Linked DNA regions of Homo sapiens: region 1 is linked to region 2. The links come from fine-mapping of genetic effects on gene expression. A gene starts in region 2. The other region holds a variant in brackets. All regions are shown on one strand. Distances are between the middles of the regions. Region 1 overlaps PHTF2 (putative homeodomain transcription factor 2). Region 2 holds the start of RSBN1L (round spermatid basic protein 1 like).

What was found.
Region 1: its variant is fine-mapped to the expression of RSBN1L in whole blood (TOPMed, PIP above 0.99).

What each region holds. Positions count from the first base shown.
Region 1 is chr7:77,903,859-77,906,764 of GRCh38, forward strand. All of the region lies in intron 6 of PHTF2 (putative homeodomain transcription factor 2), which reads left to right. Among named protein-coding and RNA genes, the nearest start is that of DDX3ILA1, 85 kb to the right of the region's middle. The variant A/G (reference allele first, on the strand shown) is at 1,469.
Region 2 is chr7:77,694,655-77,697,560 of GRCh38, forward strand. It overlaps RSBN1L (round spermatid basic protein 1 like), which reads left to right and starts at 1,805. Exons shown (of 8, transcript NM_198467.3): 1 at 1,805-2,401. The coding sequence starts at 1,816. APTR (Alu-mediated CDKN1A/p21 transcriptional regulator) reads right to left here and starts at 1,611. Exons shown (of 2, transcript NR_134254.1): 1 at 1,242-1,611. RefSeq lists enhancers at 900-1,795, 1,796-2,691, 1,876-2,105 and silencers at 1,626-1,845, 2,316-2,635.

The sequences.
Region 1 (2,906 bases), 210 kb after region 2:
CTTGTTCGCACTTCTTGAAAGGCAGAAAGAATCAAATGCAGTCAGATTTGGTTTTATATAACTATGTATAGTTTTTTTTATTTCAATTACATGCTTTTTAAGTATCTCAGCTATGTATTCTCAGCTCTATCCCCATTTCTGCATGTCTTGGTTGCCTAGTTTCTTGCCAAGATTACTGCCAGGAAACCTCATATCATCTTCTACTTTCTGTCCATTTACCTATTAAATGACAAATTCAAACCAGCTGCTTAAGATCTAAATTTCTTCACTAGTTATCATTGCTTTCAAGATGCAATCTGAGTTTTCAAATCCCTCCTTGAATTTCTATCCCACCTTAACCAGGCTAAACTAGCTCTTTGCTGTTTCTTAAACATTCCATGCTTTTTTGCCTATGTGTCTTTGGACATGCAACTCCCTTTGCGTGGGGTAGCCCTTTTCCCTTTTGTTTAGTCAATCCTCTATGTTCTCTCAAATTTAGATTAGACATCAGACATCACTTTCTTGAAGAATCCTTTCGTAACTCCCCAATGTAGTTACATATCTTTCTTATGTATATTATAGCAGTTAATCATAAGTGTTATATTAGTCACCTTGGGCTACCATAACAAAATACCACAGATTGGGTGGCTTATACAACAAAATTTATTTTTTCACCATTCTGAGGGGTGGAAGTGCAAGAGTGAGGCAATGTCAGAGTTGGTGTCTGATGAGGCTTCTCTGACTTGTAGATGTCCACCTTCTTGCTGTGTCTTCACAGGGCCTTTCTTGTGTGTGTGAGTGGAGAGAGAGAGTACTCTGGTATCTCTGCCTCTTCATATAAAGACAAGAGTCGTATCAGTTTAAGGCCTTACACTTACGAATCTGTTTAACCTTTACTACCTCCTTATAGGCCCTGTCTCCAAACGTAGTCACATTGTGGGTTAGGGCTTCATTCAGCATATGCATTTGTGTGGGGAGGATGAAAGGAGCACAGTTTAGTTCATAACAGGTATTTTCATTGTTTCTTTATATGTCTCTTCTTTCCTGTAAACCAAGCTTGTCCAACCCATGGCCCATAGGCCACATGCAGCCCAGGATGGCTTTGAATGTGGCCCAACCCAGGTTCATAAACTTTCTTAAAACCTTATGAGATTTTTTTTAATTTTTTTAAAGCTTATCAGCTATCGTTAGTGTTAGTGTATTTTATGTGTGGCCCCAGACATTTCTTCTTGCAGTGAGGCCCAGGGAAGCCAAAAGATTGGATACCCCTGGTCTAAACCAAGGGATAGGGAGCGGAGACTGTGTCTTGTCTTTTTTTCTGCATTGCCTAATTGCCACTGAATCTTAAAGATTAACAGTCCTAAAAATGGAAGATAATATTCCATTCTATTCTATTCTGTTTTTTAGACATAGGGTTTTGCTTTGTTGCTCAGGCTGGAGTGCAGTGGTGCGATCATAGTTCACTGCAGCCTTGAACTCCCGGGCACAA[A/G]CAATCCTCCAGCCTCAGCCTCCCAACTAGCTAGGACTATAGGAGCACGCCACCATGCCCAGCTAATTATTTTTATTTTTATTTTTGTAGAGATGGGGTCTTAATATGTTGCCCAGGCTGGTCTTGAACTCTTGACCTCAAGTAATCCTCCCACTTCACCCTCTTAAAGTGCTGGGATTACAGTTGTCAGCCACCACAGTTTCTCTCTGTTGCTCAGGCTGGAGTGCGGTGGTGCAGTCATGGCTCGCTGCAGCCTCAACCTCCAAGGCTCAATCATTCCTCCTACCTCTACCTCCATAGCTGGAACTACAGGCATGCACTGCCATTCCCAGCTAATTTTTGAAATTTTTTTGTAGAGGCAGGGTTTCGCCTTGTTGCCCAGGCTGGTGTCAAACTCCTGGGCTAAAGCAGTCCACCCGCCTCAGCCTGTCAGAGTGCTGGGATTACAGGTGTGAGCCATTGCATCCAGCCTACTCCTAGAGTTCCCCTTGCCCAGTACGTGAAGTCCTGCCTTTGAAATATTTGTGCCCAACAACATTCTGTCTTAGTTGATCTCCAGCAGAAATCTCTAGCAGCACTGTCTAGTTCGTAGGACTTCATTAAATGCTCAAAAAGTATAACTCAGCATTATATAAAATAAGTGAATGTTTTCTCTATATATCTTCTTTTTTTTTGAGACGGAGTCTCGCTCTGTTGCCCAGGCTGGAGTGCATGATCTCAGCATGATCTCGGTTCACTGCAACCTCCACCTCCCAGGTTCAAGCAGTTCTTCTGCCTCAGCCTCCCGAGTAGCTGGGACTACAGGCGTGTGCCACTAAGCCCAGCTAATTTTTGTATTTTTAGCAGAGATGGGGTTTCTCCATATTGGCCAGGCTGGTCTCAAACTCCTGACCTCGTGTTCTGCCGGCCTCAGCCTTCCAAAGTGCTGAGATTACAGGCAGGAGCTACCACGCCCGGCTCTCCATATATCTTCTAAACCTTAACTTGAGAGGAAAACAAAAAGGGGAAGTGATACCAGAGTTACGGAGGAAAAGCTACTGTCTCAGGAACTGAGACCATGGGAGGGACATGATCACTTTTAGAAAGATACAGTCAGAAGAAAGAAGGAAAAAGAGAGGAAGAAAGTGGCTCCTCCTCCTTTTTCTAATGCCTTGTCGTCAGAATTTCACAGTATGTAATAACTTCCTGTTAAGATATACAGAAAATATAATTTGTATGCTCCCAGCCCTAGGATTACAGAGAATGGTGATCACAGGGCTGAAAGAGTTCAGATAAATAACCAGCAACAGGTTATATAAAACCTAAAGTTTTAAAAGATGTTCTCCTTTGTGTCTGAAACTCTGAACTTCTTAAGTAAGCATTTGTACTTGCCCCTTTTAAAATTAGAGTTAATGGCACGGTGAAACCCCATCTCTACTAAAAATACAAAAAATTAGCC
Region 2 (2,906 bases):
GGCACGAACTCAGCTTACTGCAACCTCTGCCTTACAGATTCAAGGGATTCTTCTGCCTCAGCCTCCAGAGTAGCTGGGACTACAGGCGCATGCCACTACGCCCAGCTAATTATGTATTTTTAGTAGAGGCAGGGTTTCACTATGTTGGCCAGGCTGGTCTCGAACTCCTGACATTGTGATCTGCCCGCCTTGGCCTCCCAAAGTGCTGGGATTACAGGTATGAGCCACCGCGCCCGGCCACATTCCTTATCTTTTAAGCTAAAACCCATCTCCCCAAATTGCTTATTTTCGAAGCAAAAATCAAAGCACATGCTTACAAAACATCGAACACGCAGTGTGCTTACTAAACGCTAAAATACAGAAACCTAAAAAAACAATTCTTGCTTTTCAAACATCCATAAATAATCGCCAACGAATTTTTCCTGGCAAGTCTACGTTATAATAATAATAATATTATTATTATTATTATTATTTTTTGAGACGGAGTCTTGCCCTGTCGCCCAAGCTGGAGTGCAGTGGCGCAGTCTCGGCTCACTGCAACCTCCGCCTCCTGGGTTCAAGCGATTCTCCTGCCCCAGCCTCCCCAGTAGCTGGGATTACAGGTGCGCGCTTCCATGCCCAGCTAATTTTTGCATTTTTAGTAGAGACGGGGTTTCACCATGTTGGTCAGGCTGGTCTCGAACTTCTGACCTCGTGATCCGCCCGCCCCGGTCTCCCAAAGTGCTGGGATTACAGGTGTGAGCCACCGCGCCCGGCTATAATAATTATTATAAAATTCAAATCTTAAGGCCGCACATGGTGGCTCACGCCTGTAATCCCAGCACTTTGGGAAGCGGAGGTGGGCCGCTCACCTGAGATCAGGAGTTCGAGTCCAGCCTGGCCAACATGGTGAAACCCCGTCTCTAATAAACACAAAAATTAGCCAAGCATGGTGCCGGACGCCTGTAGTCCCTGTTACTGGGGAGGCTGAGGCAGGAGAATCGCTTGAATCTGGGAGGCGGAGGTTGCGGTGAGCCGAGATCGCGCCACGGCACTCCAGCCTCGACAACAGAGCAAAACTCCGTCCCAATAAATAAATAAATAAATAAAATAAAAATCTTAAGGGTCTAGTCACAACAGTTCAAAAGTCTCCAAAGGGAGACTCTCACCTTCAAGCTTGTAAGTAATACTAAAGTTCTAGATTTGCTGGAAGTTATCTCCTTCAATGGATTACAGCACATGATCTAGCAATAATAACGTACCTTGTCACCACATCGAATGATTTTGAACACTTCCCATCAATCGACTACCGACTAACAAAAAGAAGGACTTGATTCCCGGCAATTTTTTCTCTTCTGAACTGAGCATTCCCGAAATCCAGCTTGCTGAACGCGCAGATGCAGGGTGAGAGGCACCCCAGGAAAAATGGAAGGGAAAGTGGTACAAGTTAAAACAGTCTTCGTGGCCGCAGAGACGATCGCTACCTCGGCCATGGCAGATCTGGGGGTCCGGGGCGGGGGTTCTTCCCTGATACCCACCGGGCACGCGAGTTCACGCCAGCGACAGTGGAAAGCCCTCCCCTCGCAGCGCGCTCCGCCACTAGCCGCACCCCGCCGAGCTCTGACCTCCGAAGAGGGTCCCTGTGGCGATCCCGCCCCTTCGTCTGATGTTTGTGCCTTTGATTGGCTCTTAGGTGGATCCCTCAGCGTGGCTTGCCCAATGGAGCAATGCCGGCTGGTGGCCTGGCCGCTCCGCCCCTTCCCTACCCCTCGCGGAGGGCCCGCCCCCTGCCCCGCGCCGGCTAGCGGAGGAGAGTAAATACAACAGGAGCGCAAAATGGCGGAACCGCCGAGCCCCGTGCACTGTGTCGCTGCCGCGGCCCCCACCGCCACCGTCTCGGAGAAAGAACCGTTTGGCAAGCTGCAACTCTCCTCCCGGGACCCTCCGGGTTCTCTGTCCGCCAAGAAGGTCCGGACTGAGGAGAAGAAGGCACCGCGGAGAGTGAACGGAGAAGGGGGCAGCGGCGGGAACAGCAGGCAGCTGCAGCCGCCGGCAGCACCTTCGCCTCAGAGCTATGGCAGCCCCGCGTCTTGGAGCTTTGCCCCTCTGTCTGCTGCTCCCTCCCCGTCCTCTTCTCGGAGCAGTTTCTCTTTCTCCGCTGGCACGGCCGTTCCCTCCTCAGCCTCCGCTTCCTTGTCTCAGCCGGTGCCGCGCAAACTGCTGGTCCCTCCTACGCTGCTGCACGCTCAGCCTCACCATCTCCTCCTGCCCGCCGCCGCCGCCGCTGCCTCGGCTAACGCCAAGTCGCGCAGACCTAAGGAGAAGCGGGAGAAGGAGAGGAGGAGGCACGGTCTCGGTGGGGCCCGAGAGGCCGGCGGGGCCTCCCGGGAGGAGAACGGGGAGGTGAAGCCGCTGCCCCGAGGTGGGTGCCGTGCGGGGAGGGGGAGGGGAGGGCGCCGTGGGTCCCCGCCGCCCCCTGGCGCCCACGGGGCCCGGGAAGGGGGAGCGCGGCGGCCGCGTGCGCCGGCCTGGAGGGGCTGGGAGGCGTCCGGTTTTCAGCAGAGGATTTTGCAGTTCCCAAGGGGACAGGAAATGGAGCCTGTAATTTCGGTTGCAGAGAGGGGGATGGCCGACACTCTTATTTTCTGTATCGTTTCTTCCTCCCAGTTAGTGCGCTGCAGGATTTGTGAAAATCCATCTTGAGGACTCTCCTAGGTTTGTTTGGCTAGGGAGAGAGATGGAGGGAACGGGATGGGGGAAGGGTTTGGTTTTGTAAAAGATGCTTGATTGATTGTTAGACCACTTAGACGTGGTCGCGGGAATTCGTATTTGTGACACAGCGTTCAACCCCGGATAATCCTGTCAAAAAAGGGGTGTGGAGAGAGCACTGGCGTCAGCTGGAAGCTACCAGAGGCCTGAGCTTTTCA